Linked DNA regions of Homo sapiens: regions 2 and 3 are each linked to region 1. Evidence: fine-mapped expression QTL. A gene starts in region 1. Each other region holds a variant in brackets. All regions are shown on one strand. Distances are from middle to middle.

Region 1 (8,000 bases):
AGAAGCAGCGCAGACCCAGAGCAGGCAGAAAGATTGGGAGGATGAGTGCGGGGGTGGGAGGGAACTGGCCTGGCAGCACAGACACCCCGTGGCCCTCTGGAAAACAGCTCTGAGGGAGGAAAGGCCAGGCCAGGAGGCTGGGAAGAAATGAGGAGGGGAGGCTGGGTGGAGAGATCCCATTCTGGAAAGCCGTGGGGGAGGAAGGGGAGAAGGGACAGTAGCCTGAGGTGGGAGGGCCAGGGAAGGGGGTGTTTCAGAGAGAATGCCTGAGTGCCAGAGTGGGGAGGGTTGGGAGAAGAGCAGGACCCCAGGAAGGCCCACACCCTGAGGTTATAAGGAAGAAACTGGGTGCTGTTTCTGGCCTTCCAAGTCTGCTGGCCACCTTGTGAGATGTTTGGAAGCAGGAAGCCCGAACCAGAGTGGAACCTTTCTTCTCAGGCCTGTCAGGATACCTGGCAGGGAACTGGGGCCACAAAAGAGCCCTCTCTGAGTCACAAGTGGGCAACCATGTCATTTGCAACCTGCAAGCAATCCCACGAGAGGTGAGAATCTAAACAACCTCCTCAGAAGCCAAGAGCACCTGCCCCGAGCCAGCCTGCCTGGGTTCAAGTCCCAACTCTGCCACTTTCTAGCTGGGTGAATGCAGGAAGCCTATTAACCTCTCTGGGCCTCCGTTTCCTCATCTGTAGAATAGGAGTAACCTTAGTACCTGCCACACCAGGCTGTTCTGAGGTATGACCAAGATAAGGCACGTCGAGCGTGGTGACTGCTATCCAGCCAGTGCCAGTGTTGAGTCCATTGTCCCTGGGTTATGAGGACACGACGACAGGAAGGAACAAGCGTTTCCGAGAGGAACAAGAGCAGACACGGCAACCATAATTCTCCTATGCATTTGTCCAACAGATGGCTGGGGAAAGAAAGCACTGCAGCTGAAGCTCCCATGGCCCATTCATGAGGATCCACACACAGCAGGGAAGCATTTTTAGCTTCCTCGCCAGACACGCGCCACTCCCCACTCCCATCCCTGGGGGGCAGGAGGTGGGTCTGAGCAGAAAACCACAAGCCTGTGGGAGGAGGGAAGTGTTCTCCCACTACACCAGAGTGGGCTGAGGCCTGGGAGCACCTGCCAGGAGCCTCCTGATGGGATGGATGCTCTTTTCCTCATCCCCTTCTACTTGCTGGAGAGAACAGTAGCTTCAGAGGCAGAACATGGTTTGATGGGGGAAGGGAGGGATGGGTGACCAGCGGGAGGAAAGAAGCTGAATTTAGGGAGGGAAGCTGGTCTGTAAAGCATAGCCTCAGAGCCGGCAAAGCAGAAATACTGCTGACTCTCCTGGCTGTTCACGGACCGGAGGGGAGAAAGTTAAGAGTTTGCACTTACTCCACTTGCAAAAGCATTCAACTACAGAGGCGGAGGGACGGAGGCCTGGGTTCAAATCCTGCCCTGCCAACTCTCCACATCGTTGCAGTGCTTTATGCTGCGATTTTAGGCCAACTGTTTACAAAAGCAATGAATGAATGTCTACAGGCAGCGCTCAAGGAGTAATTTTAGTTTTGTGTGTGTGTGTGTGTGTGTGTGCGCGCACGCGGGTTCTCAGTATCACCCATCCTCTAGTAGTCACACCACAAATACCCTTTGAATTGAACTAAATGCAAAATATAATTTGATTATGGAAGCAGTTAAGGAAAGAAACACCCACATGATCCCTGGCACAATTTTGTACTTTTTATTTATTTCGCAAACAATCATGTAGCTTGTACAGGCACTGTTCTGAGCATTTTATACATACTGACTCACTTATCCTCGCAACAGCACTGTGAGAGTGCAGGTGAGGAAACCAAGACCCCCAGAGATTAAGGAACTCGTTCCAAACCACACAGCCAGGAAGCAGCCGTTCAGGGATTCGAACCCACACCGTCGGCCGGGCGCAGTGGCTCACGCCTGTAATCCCAGCACTTTGAGAGGCCAAGGTGGGCAGATCACCTAAGGTCAGAAGTTAGAGACCAGCCTGGCCAAAATGGTGAAAACCCCATCTCTACTAAAATTACAAAAAATTAGCCAGGCGTGGTCGTGGGCGCCTGTAATCCCAGCTACTCAGGAGGCTGAGGCAGGAGAATCTCTTGAACCCGGGAGACGGAGGTTGCAGTTAGCTGAGATTGTACCACTGCACTCCAGCCTGGGCAAAAGAGGAAGATTCTGTCTCAAAAATAAATAAATAAATAAATAAATAAATAAGTAACCCACACCGTCTGGCTCAGGGTCCACGCCGTAACCTCCGGGCTGTGCTGCCGTTGTCCGAAAGCTTGCTTCCAACTAAAGACCAGAGATGGGAGGGAGTCGCATTCTCCAATCTCTTTAAAAGGTCCCATTACCAACATCACAGAGCCTCTGCCACTACCGAAGGGTTTATGGCGATGCCTGCCACGTGGTCTTTCTTTTCATGGTTCACAAGCCACAGGGAAGTGCCTAAGGCACACAAATCTTAAGTATACAGTCTGATGATTTTTCACGCGGGTACACACCTGCATAACCCCCTCCCAGATCAACAAATGTCTACAGAGACATTTTCAGCTCCCAGCAGTCCGGGTGGTGTGCCCCTCCCCATCAGTGGCTATCTAGCCCCAAAAGCTAATCTCGATTCTGACATTCACACCATAGATTAGTTTCGCCTTGTCTAGGATTTCTAAATGGAATCATATGGTGTGTACTCTTTTGCATCTGATTCTACTCGTCAAATTAAAAATCACATAAAATCAGCACACGGGCAGACAATGATAGCGGGAGAAAGGAGGGCGCGGCTGAGTTTCTTTCCCTTCCAAGCAGCCCCCTAGCCTGTTCGTATTTGGGCTCAGTGACTGATCAAAGGGGACAGTGGGAAGAGCTGGATGGACACTGGAGTTTGGAAACACAGGAGTTGACCTTAGAAAACCAGTGGACCGCAGGGGGCAAAAGAGCTGCCCCGCCTGGAGAAGGCATTGTAGGATGGCGGAGGCAGGTGGGTCACTTCTGTTGCTTCGGATGTCCAGAGGGGAGAAGGTTTTATGAGGCCTTAAAACGCTCACACCGGGTTCCTCCCACGCCATGCGCCAGGGGCACCCCATGTGGCCACCGGTTCCTCCCGGGTTCGCTCTGGCCGGGGCTCCCCGGGTGCAGACAACCTCCCAACGACCGCGCATCCGCCCGGCAGGCGCGCCTCCCTACCTGTGCACTGCTGGATGAAGTGCTGGTACTCCGCTCCCTGCTCGCCGGGGACGATGGTGGAGCCGTCATATTTAAAAGTCACCCTTTGGGTTGGGAGAAGAAAAAAACACACACACACATCAGCGCTGGTGGCCGCGCGACGCGGCGCTTGCAGAGGACAATCTAACAGACGCGCTGGCCACGGAGAAGCCCGCGGGGGCCTGGCACGCCGTCCCGGAATAAGGCGAGGAAGACAGCGCGGGAGGCCCGAATCCGTCCCGCCTGGAGGCCGGCTCGGTGCACGAGGCCCCGCGCGAGCCCGGGGAGCGGGGCGTGGAGACGAATGAAAAGTTCCTACCAGATGACGGCCGAGCCGTCGTCGCGCACCAGGTTGTACGCCGCCCGGCAAGCCTCTTTGTCGATCTTGGTGGCCATCGCCGCGGAGCCGCAGCGGGACACTGTCCGGGGCGGCCGAGCGCGCCCCTGGCCGGCGGCGGGGATGGGAGCGCGGCGGGTACGCGCCGAGGGCGCACGGGCTGGCGGCGGTGGCGACGGCTACGCGGCGCCTGCAAGCTGCGAGCGCGGCGGCGGCTTCCACTGCGGACGGAGAGCGCGCGGGGACCCCAGGCCGTGGCCCGCCCCGCCCCCCCGCGCCCATTGGCCGCCCAGGCGGCGGCCCGCCTCTTCATTGGCCGTCGGGCTGCGGGGGCGGAGCGTCTTGATTCTCTGGCGGCCAATCCCAGACCGGAAGGCTTGCGCAACTCCGCGGTGGGGGCTGGAGTAGGGGCTTTGCCTCCTCCCTCTCACTCTCCCTCCTCCCTCCCGCTCTCTTCTCCCCCAACATCCCTCTTCTCTCTCCTTCTCCTTCTCACTTCCCCTCCTCCCCTCCCGACCCCTCCCTGGAAACTCCCACTACCCCAACCCCCTTTCCCACCCCGCCTTCCTCCTCTCCCTCCTCCTTCCTCTTCTTCCCCCACTGCTTGCTTCCCCCACTTCCCTGACCTCTTCCCCCTCCCTTCCCTCCCCCTCTTTCTCCCTTCCCCCTTTATTCTTCTTCCTCTCTCCTCCTCCCTCTTCTTGCCTATCCCAGCCCAAAACTTCTCCATCCTCCCTATTTCCTTCTCCCCAAGCTCTCCTCTTTCCTCCTCCTTGACCCCCTCCCCTGCTGCCCCCGGCTTCGCCTCCCTCTTCTCCACTTACCCTCCTGGCATCTCCTCCCTCCCTGTCCCCTACTCCCTCCTCCTATTCCCCCTCTCCCCCTTCCTCATTCTCCCCACCCCCCTGCCCCTGAGGCTGCAGGGCTGCAGAGCTCCACAGGGGACCTCCACGTGGATGATGTAATGCGTCAAACCCAAGGAGACAGGCTGGCCACTGTCCCTACCCCAGCGTTTGGTTCCATGGATTCTAGGTGGGGAGGAACTGGAAAGAATGAAGCATTTTAAATAGGAGGGGGTAGAAAGTGGACTGCTTCCAAAACGCTGGTGGGCTCGCGTTTACTCTGGATTCTGGTCATTTGCATTCCTATCTTAACCTCTCCCTTTGGGCTCCTCTGAAAGCACGAGCTGACTCATTCTGTCTTCCTCATTCCTTCACTGACTCATTCATTCATTCCCTCATCCAGCCATTCCACAGAGACCAGTTACAGCGTCCAGGTAGGTAAAAAGGCAGGATCCTGAAGACTGGGCTCTTGAATTGCATCCAGTACTGCCACTTTCCAACTGGGGGCCATTGGAAAGCCTCAAAACCTCTTTTAAATGACTCCTCAAATGGGAAAAATAGTATAACTGACATCACTGCTTTGTTTTAAGTGTAATTGAAATGATACTTGGAACAAATATACTAGACATTCGATAAAATGTCATCATTGTTGGTTATTAAGTGATAAAAACAAATCCTAAATAGAAACCCAAAAGGTCAGGGACAATGTCCAATTAATGTTAGAATTCTCAACAAGCAAAAAAACAAAAACGAGAAATTGAATGAATCAATCAATCAGTCAATCAATGGGTAGTTGAATGGGTGGGTGGACAGGAACACAGTTTCAGAAGAGTAGAGGCAGATGCTGTTATAAATAAGACAAAAAGAAATTCACATTTCATACCCCACAAAGCCATTCCTACCTTACTCCTTGACAAGGGTAATGGGACAATTGGCCATTAGAAAGAAGAACAAAGGTGGATCCTTTGATCAGGGAAAATTCCAAAAGGATCAAAAATTTAAACACAAATAAAGGAAATCAGACCAGTCGCAGTGGATCACTCCTGTAATCCCAGCATTTTGGGAGGCTGAAGTGGGAGGATCTCATAAGCTCAGGAGTTCGAGACCAGCCTGGATAACAGGGGGAAAGCCCATCTCTACTAAAAATACAAAAATTAGCCAGGCGTGGTGGCAGACGACTGTAATCCCAGCTACTTGGGAGGCTGAGGCAGGAGAATCGCTTGAACCCGGGGCGGGGGGCAGAGGTTGCAGTGAGCTGAGATCGCACCATTGCACTCGAGCTTGAGCGATAAAGCGAGACTCTGTCTCAAAAAAAGGAAATCACAAAAGTGCCAGAAGAAAATATGGGGAGCTTCCTTCTAACCATAAACCATGTTACCCAAATCCAAATCCAAAAGCCATTGAAAAGATGAATACATTCAAACACATAAAAAGTGATCCAGGAAAAAAAAAAAAAAACATACCATACCACCTCATGCAAAGTGTAAACATAAAAAGACAAAGCAGTAAAAAGTGTTTGCAACTCAAGTAAAGAATTAGTCTTGCTAAAATATAGAGAAGTCAAACTTAAAAAAAAGAAAATGAAAAGAACAATGGGCACAGAATATGACCAGACAGATTAAATGATCTTAAACATGCAAAAAGATGCTCAACCTCAACTCCTAGTAAGAGAAATGCAAATTAAAGCAAAATTGAGATACCTTTAAAAAATAAATAAATAAACTAGCAGTTTGGTAAAAATAAAAAACTTTGACAAGCCTACTTTGCTGGGGAGGCTGTGGAAGACCCAGGTCCTCTTGTACATTGCTGGTGGGAGTGTGAATTGACACAACCCCCATGGAGCCGCCGTAGAGGCCAGTTGGCAATGTCTAGCAAATTTACAAGTCTGTGTGCCCTTGATCAATCCATTTACCCTATAGGGTCAGTGGTGCCCAGCCATGGCTGGACATGGGAATCACCAGGGTCCCCTGATCCCACACCCAGACATTCTGATATAATTGGTCTGAGATATGCCCTGGGTATGGAGATTTTTTTTTTTTTTTTTGAGAAGGAATCTCACTCTGTTGCCCAGGCTGGAGTGCAATGGCGTGATCTCGGCTTACTGCAACCTCTGCATCCCGAGTAGCTGGGGTTACAGGTGCGTACCACCACGCCTGGCTAATGTTTGTATTTTTAGTAGAGATGGGGTTGGCAGGCTGGTCTTGAACTCCTGACCTCGTGATCTGCCCGCCTCGGCCTCCCAAAGTGCTGAGATTACAGGCATGAGACACCGCACTCGGCATTTTTTTTTTTTTTTTTAAAGGCAGGGTCTTGCCTGCCTCAAAAAACTCTGTCACCCAGGCTGGAGTACAGTGGTGCAATCTCAGCACACTGCAGCCTTGACCTCCCAGGCTCAAGCGATCCTCCCACCTCAGCCACTCAAGTAGCTGAGACTACAGGCACGTGCCACCACGCCTGGCTAATTTTTGTATTTTTTTGTAGAGACAGGTTTTTGCCATGTTGCCCAGGCTGGTCTGGAACTCCTGAGCTCAAGTGATCTGCCCGCCTTGGCCTTCCAAAGTGCTGGGATTAGAGTTGTGTGCCACCCGTATGGGGATTTTTGTAAAGCCCCCTGAGTGATGCTTACGTTCGACTGGGGCTGAAAGTCACTGCTATAGATAATAGATACACTTGTATGTGTGCAAAATATATCCAGGGTTATTCATTGAGCTTTACTTTTAAGGCAGAAGGTGAGGGCTAACCTGAGTCCCCATCAGTGAGGGGCTAGATGAATAGGTAATAACGCTGGTGAACCATGCACGACTATGAAGCTGTAAAAGAAAGAAAGGATGAGGACCCTCTCTAGATGCTGGTATGGAACATTCTACAAGATAGATCATGAATACGCAAAGCTAGCTACTGAATAGTGTGTTCAGAACAACACTACCTTTTGGGTAAAATGGGGTGGGTGTTAATATTGTATTTGTTTTGTTTTTTTCAGAGGGAGTCTCGCTCTGTCACTCAGGCTGGAGTGCAGTGGCGCGATCTCGGCTCACTGCAATCTCTGCCTCGCGGGTTCAAGTGATTCTCCTGCTTCAGCCTCCTGAGTAACTGGGACTACAGTGCACGTCACCACGCCCGGCTAATTTTTGTATTTTTAATAGAGACAGGGTTTCACCACGTTGGTCAGGCTGGTGTCGAACTCCTCATCTCAGGTGATCCGCCCGCCTTGGCCTCTCAAAGTGCTGGGATTACAGGCGTGAGCCACCACGCCCAGCCTGCATTTGTTTATATTGGCATTGGCATTGAAACTTCTGGTAGAGAACACAAGAGAAAACTAACAGTACCTGTGGTGGAGGTGAAGCAGAAAGTCAGGCAAAAAGGGTTAGGGATTGGGGTAGGAGGGTGGTGGGTGTTACTACATACCTTCTTGTTTTAGTTTAGTTCTCGACCACGTGAATGTATTATCTGTTCAGAATGCTAAACTACCACCCAGAAACGTGGCTGCCATACTGAATTCAATCCTCAGTCTCCATGGTTCAGCGTTCCTGGAGGAATCCTATGAATGTGTAGGGAACTGGGAAGCCCCACTTCAGTCCTCCTTTCATTGCTGTTCTCTTTC
Region 2 (8,266 bases), 24 kb before region 1:
CCCGGTTTTGGCGCGCTGCAGCCCGCTGACGTTCTCACCGATCCACGTGATGAGGGCAAACTTGGACCTCTTGCTCATGGCATCCCCGGTGGTGAAGCGCACGAAGGCAAACAACCGGACGTCATCTGTGGCCAAAAGCGAAAAGAGAACATGGTGCTGCGTTAAAACACCCCCATGTCATGTCCCTGGGGAGAGGCTGTGAGCCACGAGTGCGCCTGGAGCAGCACAGCAGGAGACCGGTGCAGTTCCCTGGGAGCACCATGTGCAGAGGACAGGAGGGAAGCACTCATCCGCTGCCCTTGTCACACTCCCCTGAATCCTGGCAACAGTGCTGCAGGCTTCATGCCCATTTCACAGATGGGAAATGGAGATTCAGAGAAGTCACATGGCACTTTCAAGGTTGTGAGGGAATTCAAGGTCATGCTGGGATTTAAACCCAGGCCTTTCTGGCTGCAACGCCTACAGCCTTCCTACAATCAAGGCTCAAAGTCTGGGTGGGCCCATTGCACAGATGTGGGTGCCGCCAGCAGTGCCAGGGCCCAGCCAAAAAAAATTTAAAAATAAAAATTTAAAAAGGCTCAAATTATGGATCTTATTTAGGGACCAGAAATTCATCCTCTTTGTAGACCAGAAATTCATCAACTCTTTTTGCCTCAATCTTTGCAGTTTGGAATGAGACTCTACACTGTAGAGAGACAGGAGGGGCAAGGGGGGTGCTGGGTATGAAGAGGAAACAAAGAAAATGGCTCTTAATTTGGCCCGGGATATGGCTCCGAGGATATTTCACTTATGACTAGGGCAATTAGGTCAACAATGAATTCTGAACACATTTCCATTGGCTGTGTTATGCTTGTTCTATCTTATATAGTCATTTTTATTAAAATGGCTTTGAGGGCTATTTTGTTCCATTGATCCACATTAAGTTTTATTTCAATGCCACACTGTTTTTATTATCATGACTTTAAAATTTGTTTCACAATCCACTATGCTAAGTTCCCCCACCCTCCACTGCTCTGTATTATCAAAATATCATTTGATATTCTGGAATTTTTTTTTTTTTTTTTGAGACAGAGTCTCGCTCTGTCGCCCAGGCTGAAGTGCAGTGGCGCGATCTCGACTCACTGCAAGCTTGGCCTCTAGGGTTCACACCATTCTCCTGCCTCAGCCTCCCGAGTAGCTGGGACTACAGGCGCCCACCACCACACCTGGCTAATTTTTTGTATTTTTAGTAGAGATGGGGTTTCACTGTGTTAGCCAGGATGAATCTTGATCTCCTGACCTTGTATTCCACCCGCCTCAGCCTCCCAAAGTGCTGGGATTACAGGCGTGAGCCACCGCGCCCAGCCTGATTTTTTGAATTTTTAAAGTGATGTGTGTATTGGCCAGGTATGGTGGCTCACCCCTGTAATCCCAGCACTTTGGGAGGCAAAGGTGGGAGGATCACTTCAGCCCAAGAGCTTGAGACCAACCTGGGCAACATGGAGAAATCACCTCTCTAAAAAAAAAAAAAAAAAAAAAAAAAAAAAAACCAAAAAATTAGCTGGGCACGGTGGCAGGCACCTGTAGTCCCAGCTACCAGGGAGGCTAAGGTGGGAGGATCACTTGAGCCCAGGAGGTTGAGACTGCAGTTGAGTAGAGATTACGCCACTGTACTCCAGCCTGGGTGGCCAACTGAGACCCTGTCTCAAATAAAATAAAATAAAATAAAATAAAATAAAATAAAATAAAATAAAATAAAATAAAAATATGTGCGTGCATGTGTATGTGTGCATTGCATGTGTGTGCGTGTGCATGCGGGTGCATGTGTACCCCACTAGGATAAACCAAAATTGTTCAACATCAGCTCAACTGGCATCTGGGGCCAGATCATTCTCTCTGGTAGGAACCATCCCGTAAATTGCAGGGTGCTGAGCAGCACCCCTCACCTGGCCCCACCAGTTATGACAAACAAAAATGCCTCCATACATTGCAGATGTCCTCCAAAGGGGGCAGAACACCCCCAGTTGAGAACCTCTGCTGTAAACCGTTGGTGTCCCCATTTAATTGGGACCCCTTTTGTGTTTTCCAACAAAGTTCTGTGCCTCTTGAGGGGATCACATATCCTTATTCAGCTTACTTCACAAACAGTTCATATTTTAACTGCCATTATCACCAAGATCTCATTACAATTCCTAAGTGGTGGTTGCTGGCACATAGGGATGCCACTGGTTTGGAGTCATTCACCTTGTATTAGCCACTTGCATAAACTGATGCTCTCTCAGGGCGTTTAGTTGCTGGTGTGAGGGTTTCTCAGGCACCTAATGATATCGTAGAGCGATATGTTTGCTTCTCAAACATTGTGTGGATTTGAATCACTGGGGAAATCTTAAACGCAGCTTCTGATTAAACAGCTCTGGGGTCTACGCTTCTAAGAAGCTTCCCAGTGATGCTGATGCTACTGGTCAAAGGATCACACTGAGTTAAAAAAAAAAAAAAAAATCAATCTGCGTTTCTTCCTAGAATCTAAGTACGTCCCTGCAGAGTCCCGCACGAAGCATGTAGGTTAGCACCAAGACCCAAGGACACAAACCACCTGTCTACAGGAGATACTGGCCTGCAGCTGACAAGCTCACTTCCTGGTGATTATCTCAAAACCGGAGGGGGTAACCAGCACGTTCGCCTTCAACAAGAAGCCGGGTGGTCTAACGGGTCATCCATTTGTCCCCGGGAGCTAAGGAACACGCAGCTCTCAGCAGACCATGAATGCGTGATCCTAGCTGCAGTCCAGGGTCAGGGACTCCACAACACTTACTTCTTAAAGGAAACTGATCGTCATCACCACTCACATTGGCACACCACTTTTCAGTTTACAAAACATGCTTCTATTTCATCTCATTTGGTCTTTGTAACAACGCTGGGAGGCAGATGAGGTAGAGACGTCATGGCCACTTTCATCATCAACATCCAAATCACCTTCATTGATAAGGGCTGGAGGCTCAGAGGCCACGTGATGTGGCCAGACTCTCAACACGAGGCCAGAGCCAAGGGCCTGGACACCTTGGGTGTGTGTGCTCAGCCCCCTTTCTCCAGGGAAATGCCCCACCAGGCCATGGCTATCTGGGGGTCAGTAGGTAACAACGCAGCAGGGATAGAAGGAAGGATGGTCTCAGGGACACTGCGCAGGTGAATCCACAGGGCCTGGTGACCAACTGGATGTGAGAAGGTGAGGACAGAGGAGTCCAGGGCACAGGAGACCCCGAGGGGTGAGGGCCCCACCTCCCATGCCCCGGGGACTGTGCCTGAATTCCCAAACATCAGCCTGGGCTGCCTCACCTGTAAAACACGTTCTTTTCTTTATTGAGATAAAAGTCACATAACAAAATTCACCATTTTAACCACTTTTTTTTTTTTTGAGAAGGGAGTCTCGCTCCGTCGCCCAGGCTGGAGTGCAGTGGCGCGATCTCGGCTCACTGCAAGCTCCGCCTCCCGGGTTCACACCATTCTCCTGCCTCAGCCCCCCGAGTAGCTGGGACTACAGGCGCCCGCCACCACGCCCGGCTAATTTTTTGTATTTTTAGTAGAGACGGGGTTTCACCGTGGTCTTGATCTCCTGACCTCGTGATCCGCCCACCTCGGCCTCCCAAAGTGCTGGGATTACAAGCGTGAGCCACCGCGCCCGGCCATTTTAACCACTTTAAAGCATCCAATTCAGTGGCTTTAAGGACACTCACAATGTTGTGCCATCATCGCTACTATCTAATTTCACCACTCCAACGAGAACTCCCGTCCTCAAGAACAGTCACTCCCCATTCTCCACCCCATTCCCCCAGGCCCTGGCAGCCACTCTTCCACTTTCTGTCTCTATGGATTGGCCTGTGCTGGACATTTCATTGAAATGGACTCATATGCTATGTGGCCTCTGCGGTCTGGCTTTCACTCAGCGTCACATCTCCAAGGATCATCCCTGCTGCCGCATGTGCGGGTCACCACTTCATTCCTTTTATGGCTGAACAGCACTCCATTGCATGGAGAGAGCACATTTTGCTTATCAGTGCATCAGTTGATAGACATTTGGGATCCTTCCAAAATGGGGTGATTTCACGCCTCCCTTATCAGTTGACCATGATGACTGAAAGTGAAAGCTACAAAACCCACCTAGCCCATCAGGGTGGAACCTCCAACCTAAAGCTCCTGACACAGGGCGGGGCTGCCAGGTGGCCACAGCGCACAGGAAACGAGACTGGTGCAAGAGATGGCAGTTCCTCACTTGTAAGGTGCAAAGTGCGCAGCCACAGGCGGCTGGTGCAGACTTGGAGTGTGGGGGAGCAGCGCTTTAGCTCGAGAGCATTTCTCAGCAGTCCCCGTGGTGTCTGGGAAGCCAGGGCTCTGTTTTGAGGAGTGTCGTCAGAGCATCAACACCAAAGTGCTTAATTAAATGGCAGCCTTGACCTGAGGGGGAGGAGGGGCTGAACATC[C/T]GCCTCCGACTGCATTTCACAAGCAAAAGAACACGGTGAGTGTGTTTCCATGGTAACCGCTCTCGGGTTCCCATTTCCACATTGGTCAGCCCGGACTTGGATCCAAACTACCCATCCCTGGCCCAAGCCTCCATGGAGGTAAGTTACCAGCCCTGCTTTGGGCCAACGCAGTTTTTGGGGACCTCAACCATGTGTTCAGCCCATGGCCAAGGCTTCGGGCTGAGCCAGCTCTCCCAGCCTCTCTCTCTTCTCAGTGTCGCCCCCTCCCACGGCTCTGGCTGGCTCCTCTGCGGAGCTCCATGGCTTTTCCAGCGTCTGCCCTCTCTGCTGGCTGCCAAGTGCCTCCACATGCCGGCCATGCTCTGCGCACCTCCAACCCTCCACATCCACCCTTCCCCTCTTTCAGACCTCCCCAGGTCTACCTTGGGCAACACCCTTTGCCCCCGGAGGGTCACAGATTCTTGTTGAAGAACCACAGGCATTGTCCCTGTGTCCCAAGTACCAGCCCAGGGCCTGGCACAAGATAGATGTACAATAAGTAAGTTACACCCACAACCCCAAGGACACTGGGAACCTTCCAGAACCACAGCCTGATGTCATTTAAATGATCGTGGGGGAGCGGGGTAAAGAGGGACGTGGTTTGCTAGGTGACTGCTGCGTGCTTATCCGACAATGGTTTGGTCAACAAGATTGCTGACAGGCCTGTTTTTGAAAATCCGAGTCACGTTATGCTTACAAATGTTTGCTGCTAGAGATCTGGCACGACAGTGACGGGTCAGCTGAGTCGGAGACGGAAAACCTGTTGGTCTGCGCACCGTTTTTGCAGCTGCCCGGCAGACTGGAGGCCTCTCCCCAACCCTGCTCACCCTGAAGGAGGTTCTCGGTCCCTTTTGACCTCACACTGGGCAGTGGAAGGGGAATCGCTAGTTCTTCATCCCTGGTTTAGTTACTTTCCCTCTTCTGAACAAATTGGGTCCACAAACCCCAGTGGCAGTCACAGCCCCACATCAGCAGTGGGGAGCCCTAGGCTCCCTCGTCTATGTCGGGCTATTGTCACTCCTGTACGCGGGAACACTGGCATATCTACTAAAGGGCACAGAGAAACGCTGTCCTGTATATATTAGTGTGATATGTGTGTGCGTATATATTTGTGTATGTGTATATATACATATATTTGTGTGTATAATATGTGTCTATATGTGTACAGGTGTGTTTGTATATGTGTGTATATACATACATTTGTGAGTACAGGTGTATATATGTGTGTATATATATTCATGTATTTGTGTATGTGTGTTATATATACATGTATGTGTATGTGTGTGTTATATATATACATGTATGTGTATGTGTATGTGTGTTATATATACATGTATGTGTATATGTGTGTGTGTATGCACTAAGACGGCAAAACTGCCCAGAAGAAGGTTGGTACCTGGGCTTTCCATCACCCTCACTGTGCCACTTGGTCCCCAACAGGGCCAATGGTCCATCTCTTCAAACTGAAGCTGAGAGTCCAGGTCTACGCAGAGGAGACAGGGAGACTGGGCAACCCCAGTGGGGGACGGGGGACCCAGGACTTCACCCAAACACAGGTACCAGAGACAGATGCCATGAGCTCCTTCTGCTGGAGCCCTCAGCACAGGGGAGTGGTCTATACCCTTAACCTTCTCTGCAATGTCCAGGGTGCAAGTTCAAATTCCAGAATCCTTTAGAAACTTACCCCCACATGTACTAGCCTTGTGACCCAGCCCAGAGTCCTGAATGTCTCTAAGCCTCAGTTTCCTCATCCACAAAATGGGTCAAATACTTACCTCATAAAGTGGTTGGGAGGATTACATGAAAAAGAAATGAGATCTGAAGGGTTGGCTGATGGGAATCATTGCTGATTTTTGACCCCCAACACCTCTCCAGTGAAACTGCCCTCAGGGGTCCACAGGGGCCTCCTAATTGCCAAAGCCAACAGCATCTTCTCCATGCCCACTGGTGGCGTTTCACGCCATTATCAATTCTGCCCTCCTTGAACCTCTCCCTTCCCACGGCACCCAGGGCATGGTGCCATCTTGGTTCTCAGAGCACTGATCCCGCCTTCTACTTTCTCCCCGGCTCTTCCACCCCCTCTGTCTCCACACACACACTCCCCAGGGTTCCACCTCATCCTCTCCTTTCCCCTGACACTCTCTCCCTGGGAGATCTCAGCTACCACCACAGAACACTGACGCACCAGCCCCTGCCCTCACAACTCTCCACTGCTCTGTCCTTAACAAGGTGGACAGAGTCTGCCCTCTGTTTCTCGCCATTTCCTGGCACCTCGCACCCCTTACACACAACTGTTCGCTAAGGCAATCTGGAGCACTTAGAAGAGCACAAACTCCAGAGATCAGCCAGCCAGGGCCGCATCCCAGCCAGGGCCGCATCCTAGCAGGGGCCGCATCCCAGCCGGCTTCCTTCTAGCTATGGAACATCAGATGAGGGTGCTTCATGCTCTGAGCCTCAGCTGTTCCAGCTGTAGAATGGGGACCACTTTCTGCATCCAGCTCTGGGTTTCAGAGTGAGGCACTCCGAGGCACACAGTCACGGAGTCACTCCTTCTGTGAGTCTTTCTTGAGGAGAGATGGAAGACAGTGAAGGTCTGAGAGGTAACTGAGCCCCAAGTCTACTAAGCACTTATGAGGGGCCAGTCCCCACTCTAAGAATCTGCACACTGCAGATTCTTCTCCTCTGTGAGGGCAGCACAGATCGCAGTCCCATTTCACAGATGAAGAAACTGAGGCTTGGAGAGGTGAAGTGAGAATGAGCCACACAATTCTCCCTGCCCGCTGCAGAGCTGCTGAAGTCCACAGCAGCAGTTCTCAAAGTGTGGTCCTCGGACCAGCAGCACCACAGCACCCGGGAACTTATTAGAAATGTGGGTACTCAGGCTCCACTCAGCCCTACTGATCCAGACGCTGGGAGTGGAGCTCTGAAACTGTGCTCGAATGAGCCCCAGGGTGATTCTGAGGCTGCCAAACCTTGAGACCCACTGACTTAGAGGAAGAGGTGGAGAAGAGGAAATGGTGAGAACTCACTGTTGGGAGAGGGGACGAGACAAAGGTCTCAAGGACAGAAAAGCTGAAGTGCTCAGAGTTCAGCCCCCACGCCCTCCTTGCTGCCTGTCTGCCTTTTATTTTAAGCAAATGACTGCATGAAGCAGCTTCCTGCAGAGTCCGTGGTTCCTGAGCACGCCCATCAAAGACCACCAGGACAGTCCCTCCAGTGCTCCCTCCCCAAAATCCCACACCCCAAGAGAGGGAACAGCCATCATTAGCAAGAGAGCTACTGACTATCAGCCCTGGGTACCAGGAGGCCTTTCTGCCTGTGCTGCCTCTAGCTCCTCTGCTTGCCCATAAGCCACGAGGATTCAGATGCATATCATAGCATCACACTGAGCCCCATCTCAGGGCTGCCGTCACTGAGGATACAGCAAGGTCAGGAGCCCCATCCTGAGGACGGTGGTTTCCTTCTGGTCGGTGTCATGCACTCAGAGCCCAGGCCAATTGCACGCTGGATGTCCCTGATTTGAAGACTATGGATGCCCTCCCCTTCCCACCCAGAGAGAGTCTTGTTCATGAAAAGACACAGCTGTTATGTTTAACGTTAATAAAACTTCACTCTCAAAAGAGCCGGACCCTTCCTTCCACTGGTCTATGAAGCCTCATCAGAAGCCAATGATGGAGCTTTGGCTCCTGCAAAGGACCCGTGGGGACCTAGAAGCCCCAGGCAGGGCCCTGAAGGTAGGTAAAGGGAGCCTCAGTCCAATGCCCAGGTCATCT
Region 3 (8,255 bases), 52 kb before region 1:
GACTGTGCAGAGTCCCCATCGGAATCTAACAGATCACATCACGCTAAGCACCTGGCAAGGCTCAGCTCACTTAGTCCTTGTAATAAATGCATGAGGGAAGTGCTGTGATCTTTAGAGGGGGAAACTGAGGCTCAGAGAGGTGACACTACTGGCCAAGGTCATCTGGCGGGTGAACCACGGACCTCGGACTCAAACCTGAGCCCAAGGCTGAGCTCTGAGCCACGGCTGTGCTGCCTACTGTCTCTTACTGAGTCATCTGGTGGCCGCGGCCGTTTCTGGTTCTTTCAAAAAATTCTTTCTACATCACTTGGACTATGCACATTTTCTGCTTCTTGTTTCTCTCTTTTATGGTTCACTAAGAAATGGGGAACAGAAAGATTTCAACGAGGGCAGCCCATCCTCAGGGCAGGAGCTGCACGGGAACTTTCCCCCAGCCAGGGCCGCACCCTGGGCCTGGACTCCCTCACCAGCCCCAGATAACCTCTGGGGTATAAACACCTGGCACAGCTGAGAAATAGGGCTGAGTGTGGTGGTTCACGCCTGTAATCCCAGCACTTTGGGAGGCCGAGGTGGGTGGATCACAAGGTCAGGAGTTAGACACCAGCCTGGCCAACATGGTGAAACCCTGTCTCTACTAAAAACACAAAAATTCGCTGGGCATGGTGGCGGGCACCTGTAACCCCAGCTACTGGGGAGGCTGAGGCAGGAGAATCGCTGCAACCCAGGAGGCGGAGGTTGCAGTGGGCCGACATAGCGCCATTGCACTCCAGCCTGGGTGACCGAGCAAGACTCTGTCTCAGAAAAAAAAAAAAAAGGCAAGGTTTCTCTGCCTTCAGTGGTCTCATGATCCCTTGGGATCCCCAGCAAAGGCCCAAGCTGCAGTTTTCAAGTTAAAGCCAAGCTCCTTGACACACGAACAAGCTGCTTCAGACCCTGGCTCACCCGTGGGCAAACATTCCATGGAGCTTATGTCCACGCTTTCCTGTTCCTCCCCTCCTTTCCCCGCGTTCTCAGCTCAGGTACCACCTCCTTAGGGAAGCCCTCCCCCATACCCTAGCCAGATCCAGGGCCCTTGTGAGCTCTCATGGAACCTGGGCTTTTTTCTCTGAAGGAGACTTATCCTCATCTGGAAACACACACCCTCTGGTGGGACAAGCTGATTAATATCCATCATCCCTGCTAGACTCAGCCTCCTTGAGGGTGGGGGCTGTCTGAGTTTGTTCATCATCAAATCCCCATACCTAGGCCAGTGCCTGGCACATAGTAGGTGCTCAATAAACCTGTCTGCACTTGCCCTTCAAGATTCCAGTCATGGCTGGGTGCAGTGGCTCACGCCTGTAAGCCCTACACTCTGAGAGGTTGAGGTGGGAGGATCGCTCAAGTCCAGGAGTTTGAGACCAGCCTGGGCAGCATAGGGAGACCTCCTATCTAAAAAAATACAAAACTTAGCTGGGCATGGTGGTGCACACCTGTAGTCCCAGCTACTCAGGAGGCTGAGGCAGAAGGATCGATTGAGCCCAGGAGATGGAGACTGCAGTGAGCTGTGATTGTGCCGCTGCACTCCAGCCTGGGTGGCAGAGTGAGACCCTGTCTCAAAACTAACAAAATGAAAACAAACAAGATTCCACTCACGAGAGGAACCCACAGAGGGAGAGGCAGGCCTCCCTTCCAGCCCCTCCTGCCCGGGATCAGGGCCACTTCTGCAGCTGTCTGGAAAGGAAAAGCTGGCGTTCGTTGAGTCTGGCACTCCAATTTCACTCACTAGTCTGGGATAGAGGCCTCATCTGTATTTTCAAAGCTCCCAGTGATCCTAATTCACAGCCAGGGATGAGACCACAGGCCTAGGGGCAGATTTGAGAGCTGCTCATTCTTTCTAGTCTGCTTTGGGGCAGGGAGTGGGGTGGGCAGTGGGCCTGGAGGAGGGCTTGGCCGACCAGGAGATTCCAGGAGAGGATGGAAGGCTTGCGGGACGCAGTGCATGAGTGACATGAAGTCATGCACCTACTGAGCCCATGTTCTGAACGGAGCTAAAACCCGTGCACTGGGAACGGACCTAGTTTAGCTCCCTCAGCTCTGGGTATAGGAAAAGACGGAAGCCCACAGAGCTAACAAGACCAGTGGCAGGCGTGAGATAAGAACACTGCACCCTGACAGGCGCCCTTTGCCTGCACAATCCTCGCTGCTCCTTAAGCCTTTCTACACGTAGGCAATGTTGTCTATTTTGCAGATGAGGAAACCGAGGCTGAGAGGTTAACTAAATTGCCTAAATCCACACAGCTGTGAACAGATGAGCAGAAATTAGAACCCAGACGTGGCTGGGGCGGGCTGGGGCTGGGGAGGGTGGTGACCTATGGCCCCCTGCCACCCTGGGCAGCATGATCAGGGCCTTGCCCATACCTTGTAGGATTCCTTCCTGCCCTGATTTCGGCTTCTGCCCTCTCTCCGCACTCTCCCTGCCCCACACTCAGCTCCTCCAAGCCCCGCTGTCTGTGTCTGAAACTCCTCTGCCCTGATTCTGGGCTCCCACAGGGTCTGGTGTGCTGGAAGTCCAGTTTCTCAGCTGTAGGATAACCTCAGAAAGGATGTCATGGCCAACGAGGAAGATGCTTTCTCTTGGCTTTTCCTAAACAGGCAGACAGGGGAGTTCTGGCCACTCAAAAAGAATCACTACCTGTGGTCCCATCGCTATCCCAAATGTGTGGCCTCCCCGCTCCCCTCACAAGCCACAGCACCAGGGACTTTGAGAGATCTCAGTTCAAATCCCAGCTCTGGCCGGGTGTGGTGGCTCACGCCTGTAATCCCAGCACTTTGGGAGGCCAAGACGGGCAGATCACCTGAGGTCAGGAGCTCGAGACCAGCCTGGCCAACATGGCGAAACTCCATCTCTACTAAAAATACAATAATTAGCCAGGCATGGTGACGGGTACCTGTAATCCCAGCTACTATGGAGGCTGAAGCAGGAGAATCTCTTGAATCTGGGAGATGGAGGTTGCAGTGAGCTGAGATCTCCCCACTGCACTCCAGCCTGGGCCACAGAGTGAGACTCTGTCACCAAAAAAAAAAAAAAAAAAAATCCCAGCTCTGCCACTTTCTATCTGGGTGACCTCGGGTGAATGAATCCCTCTGAGCCTCAGATTTCAGGAAATGGGGACAAAAGCAGCACCTGTTTCTTATGGTTGCTAAGAATTAAATAAGCAATTGAATGTGAATGTGCCCCGCCTCAGCAGCTCCGCAAACACCTATTAAATCTGAAGGCGATGATGACTGCCTCTGTTATTACAGCAAAAAAAAAAAAAGAACTTTGTAGGACAAATCAGAAACCAAACTGTTTTCTGAAAAACAAAAAAAACATTTATTTCTGTAAACTGTCTGAGTGCAGAGATGTTCTTTACAATCCCAATACAGTACAGATTTCTTCCCCAAAACGAAATGAGCAAGGAAAAACAGAAAAAGAGCTATATCAAATGTGCTCATGAAGAACCAAGCCAATCTCACCTTTCTTTAAAAACAAAACAAAACGATCCTTTTGAATGTGTGGTGCAGACGCAGGACTGAAGCCACAGGCTTTTGGGGTGCTGTGAGCCCAGGGCTTTGCTCAGCTCACAGCTAGCGCGGCGGGCAGAGCAACCCTTCGGCCCAAGCCATCCTCGCAGCTTACACAGAAGCTTCCTGAACCTAAGGGATCCGTTCCCAGCTCTCCTTAAATTCCCAGTCCCCACCCTGGGCCTCTCTCCCTAACGATCTTGTCGCTTTGGGAGCCCCTGAAGTGAACCCTGAAATACTCCCTCCGTCAACTCTGGGCTCAGACCTTTGCCCTTCTCTGTGTCACAAGGAAATTTCGGTCAAGAGGGTGGGAACAGGTGGTTTCAGACCGTGCAGCAAAGCCACTGCCAGGTAAGTTTTAAGGCAAATTTTATCTCTTCTTATTCAGTCTGAGCCGGACCTAACCTTCTCACCACCGAGCAATCCTGCCTATGCTGGACATGCATCTTAGGCAACTCCGGATGGAGGTGGGATGAGGGAGCCCGGGGCAGATACCAGGAGGTCTGGGCCTTAGTAGGGAATGGACGTGTGTGCTTATGAAGGCTGCAGGCACCGGGCACAGCTCCTGGCCCAGCTGCCCCTCAGTGGTACACAGGAAGCAGGGTCCAGGAAAACTGAGATGGCAAAATAGGCCCGGGCTCTGGAAAGCAACGTGAGGTCATGCAGATCTCACTAGGCAGACCTCGTCGCGTGGAAGAGAAATGCCAGGAAAAGGGGTCACTGCAGGAGGCACCTCGGATCTGATGGCAGGCAGGACCTTGCATCAAAATGACTTTTCTTTAGAACAAAAAAGAGGGGGAGAAAAGAAAAAGAAGATCAAAGAAAGAGGTTCCATGAGCGTCATGAGATAGGAC[A/G]CGGCAGGGTTCTAAGGGAAGCGGGAAGGTGGGGGCTGTGGACACAGGGTGGCGGGCGCTGCCTCTCATGGCTTCTTTTCTCCCTGGTGGGCTGGTGGGCTAGTAGCTGAGGCCGGCGGTCCTCTCCCCCGGGGAGCAGGCAGATGACTTTGGCAAGGGGTGGTGTGGCGGGGGCTGGGGTTACTCCGTCTGGGCGTCGTAATTGGCTCCCCCCGCCTTCTTCAGCTCGCTCTTGATGAAATCTTCCTCCAGCTCCTTCCGATCACTGATCACAAACTCCTTAGCGAAATTCTGCAAGAACAAAGGAAAACACAGCGTTCCTATTAAGAAGGAAGGCACAGGATGTGAGGGTGGCTCAGGCAACACACTGGGAAGCAAAGCACTGAAAACCCTGATGAGAGATGGAAATGGAAATTCAGCAGCAGAGTCAGTCAATGGAAATTCAGCAGCAGAGTCAATGGAAATTGAACAGCAGAGTCATCTGGCAGAAAAAACCTGACTGGGAGGAGGGAGTGGGGCAGATCTGATGCTGCGTCTTCCCATGTCCGTGGGGATGGCCCGAGGAAGCTGGGGCTTGAATTTGGGCTGTTACCTTGGCCAAGTCCCTTCAATTCTCTGTGCCTCAACTTTCTCATCTGTAAAAAACTATCTCGTCAGGAAAATAATAGGTTACGAGGTTGGAAAGGCTCACGGGTGTGCAGGCACTCCAAAAAAAAGAAAAGGACAAAAGCTCAGATTGGTGTCTTTTGCCCATATCCATGATGTAAATAGTCCCCCAGTGGCTGACGTCAAGCTATCAAAGTGATGTCACCATACGTGGAGGTGGAAGGAGACAGGCGTAATTGGCTCTCGCCAGCTGGGACAAGCAAGCTTCAGCCACCAATGTTCCTAATGACGCAGGAGCCTCCAGTCCTGGGTCTGCCATGGGCTCTCCACCCGCACTGAGTTACACGAGGGTAGAGGCTCTGCCTTCTTTCAACAAATACCACGCCAGGCTGTGGGGCTACAGGGCTCAGCAAAATGGATGCAGTCAGTCTTTCCTCTTGCAGTACACAGGTTTCACCCATAGAACCCGCAGGCACCCATGATGCACTCAGTAAACGCTTGTGGCATGAATGAGGGAACCAGGTGACCTGGCTTATCAGACACCCTTAAGCCATGATGATACACAGTTACTGCCATATGTGGATCATAAGACTTTAACAAACAAAATTTCAGAACGATGACGGACAGCTTGACAAAAAAAAGCTATCAAAACCACAAATAACACGTCTAAAGGTAAGAAAATCATCCACATTAAAAAAAAAAGCCCATAAGGAAATAACATAAACAATGACCACCATTTTTCTTTTTCTTGAGAGAAAAGCCTGTTGCCCAGGCTGGAGTGCAGTGGCGCAATCTTGGCTCACAGCAACCTCTGCCCCCAGGGTTCAAGCCATTCTCATGTCTCAGCCTCCCAAGTAGCTCGAACTACAGGCGTCTGCCACCACACCCAGCTATTTTTTGTATTTTTAGTAGAAGCAGGGTTTCGCCACATTGGCCAGGCTGGTCTCAAACTCCTGGCCTTAAGTGATCCGCCCAGCTTGGCCTCCCAAGGTGTTGGCACTACAGGCGTGAGCCACCACGCCCGGCTAACCACAATTATTAAGCACTTATGTGTACCAGCACAGTGCCACAGTACTGAGAATGACACACAGTAGTAAATATGAATCATGGAAGGTGGAAGCAACCCCTATGTCCATCAACAGAGGAGTGGATTATCAAAACACGGTCCGTCCACACAATGGAATATTCCTCAGCCACAGAGAGGAATGAAGCGCTGCCACACGCAACTACATGGATGAACCTCGGAAACAGGATGCTGAGTGAAAGAAGCCAGGCATGAAGACCATGTACTGTCAGCTGCCATTGGTATAAATGTCTAAAAAAGGCAAACCCATACAGACAGAAAGCAGACTCGTGGTTACACAGAGCTGGAGATGGGAACAGGAAATGATAGAGACGTTCTAAAATTGGGATTGTGGTAATGGGTGCACAACTCCACAAATTCACGAAAAAGTACTGAAAAAGTACACTTAGGATGACTTGATTTTGAGGTACATACATCATACCTCAATCAAGTTCTTTTTAAAAAGGCCCGTAAGGTGATCAACATTATTTCCATTTTAAAGGTGAGGAAACAAAGGCTGGAAATTACAATGCTTGTCCGAAGTCAGACAACCAGAAGGTCCAGTTGATGCCAAAGCTGGCGTCTTGAAAGAGCCACCATCTCCTTTTGGGGTGATGAAAAAGTTTTGGAACCAGACAGAGGTAGGGCTTGCACAACACTGTGAATGTTCTGAAAGCCACTGAATTGTACACTTTAAAATGGTTCAGGCCAGGTGCGGTGGCTCACGCCCGTCATCCCAGCACTTTGGAGGCCGAGGCAGGCAGATCACCTGAGGTCAGGAGTTCGAGACCAGCCTGGCCAACATGGCGGAACCCCATCTCTACTAAAACTACAAAAATCAGCCGGGCGTGGTGGCGGGCGCCTGCAATCCCAGCTACTGGGGAGGCTGAGGCAGGAGAATCGCTTGAACCCGGGAGGCGGACGTTGCAGTGAGCCAAGATCGCGCCACTGCACTCCAGCCTGGGCGACAGGGTGAGATCTGTCTCAAAATAAATAAATAAACATAAAAAGGTTCATTTTATGTTAAATGAATTCCACCACAATTAAAAAATAAAAAACAAAAAAGTCGCCATATTGCCAAGAATGATGAGCCCAGGAGCATCCCGAAGTCAAGCTTTACAATAAAAAGACAATGCATTTGGCGCGCAAAGCCACTGAGAACACTAACAAAGTGGAGAACGGGAGGTTAATTTTTATCAAGCAGCTGATGTGTGCCAGGAACAGCCTCACTCATGTTCTCGTTCAGCCCTCAGTATATTAACTTTATTTTATTTTACTTTTTGAAGATAAGACTCATGGGCTGGGCTTGGAGAGATTTGCCCAGAATGACAGAACACCCTTGAGATCCTTTCTGTTCCCACCCCACTACAGTGTGTTACTAAGTGTATGTGATCCGTGCAATGAAAGAACACAAGTTGGATGTAAGAGCCAGAAAGGAGAATTGAGAATTAATGTATTTCTCAACCCTGAGCCCCACGGCATGAGGGAGGGGCAGAGAGCTTTCAGAAGGAGGAAGCCAACAGCTTAAGATGCTTATAGAAGAAAAGTCCAAAGTTCCTCTGCTTTGTGATAGCTATATATGGCAATCTACAGAAATAAGAACACTTGAAGTTCCAGTCGGTTAGCTATTAGAAGATTTAGATTAAGAAAAATAAGTTTGAGAGCCATGGATGGTGGCTCATGCCTGTAATCCCAGCACTTTGGGAGGCTGAGGAGAGCAGATCATGAGGTCAGGAGATCGAGACCAGCCTGGCCAACACGGTGAAAACCCTAATCTACTAAAAATATAAAAATCAGCTGGGTGTAGTGGCGCGAGCCTGTAATCCCAGCTACTCAGGAGGCTAAGGCAGGAGAATGGCTTGAACCTGGGAGGCAGAAATGGCAGTGAGCCAAGATGGCGCCACTGCACTCCAGCCTGGCAACAGAGCGAGATTCCATCTCAAAAAAAGAAAAATAAGTTTGATAAGGTCTAAGAAATCTCAAATGAAAGATACATGGAGCTAGGCACAGGTCAACCTAAAACCACAAGTACTTAGGAAATCAAATTATAATGAAACAAAAACAAGCAAAACAGACAGCAGATCTAGTAAAACATAACAATAAATGTAAATGAACAAAATTATCTTTAAAAATGCTATGTTTCAAACTACAAAAAAAAAACCCTCAAACCTTGTACTACATACCAGAGA

What was found.
Region 2: its variant is fine-mapped to the expression of COTL1 in whole blood (TOPMed, PIP above 0.99).
Region 3: its variant is fine-mapped to the expression of COTL1 in whole blood (TOPMed, PIP above 0.99). The same link has a PIP of 0.9 or more in blood mononuclear cells.

Annotation. Positions count from the first base shown.
Region 1 is chr16:84,614,299-84,622,298 of GRCh38, forward strand. It overlaps COTL1 (coactosin like F-actin binding protein 1), which reads right to left and starts at 3,780. Exons shown (of 4, transcript NM_021149.5): 1 at 3,540-3,780; 2 at 3,203-3,285. The coding sequence starts at 3,616. RefSeq lists an enhancer at 1-388 and silencers at 3,609-3,658, 3,679-4,038.
Region 2 is chr16:84,590,138-84,598,403 of GRCh38, forward strand. COTL1 (coactosin like F-actin binding protein 1) reads right to left here. Exons shown (of 4, transcript NM_021149.5): 3 at 1-125. Among named protein-coding and RNA genes, the nearest start is that of COTL1, 24 kb to the right of the region's middle. RefSeq lists enhancers at 190-689, 3,755-4,054, 7,398-7,899, 7,900-8,266. The variant C/T (reference allele first, on the strand shown) is at 4,455.
Region 3 is chr16:84,562,268-84,570,522 of GRCh38, forward strand. It overlaps COTL1 (coactosin like F-actin binding protein 1), which reads right to left. Exons shown (of 4, transcript NM_021149.5): 4 at 3,329-4,688. The coding sequence ends at 4,578. Among named protein-coding and RNA genes, the nearest start is that of COTL1, 52 kb to the right of the region's middle. RefSeq lists an enhancer at 1-489. The variant A/G (reference allele first, on the strand shown) is at 4,398.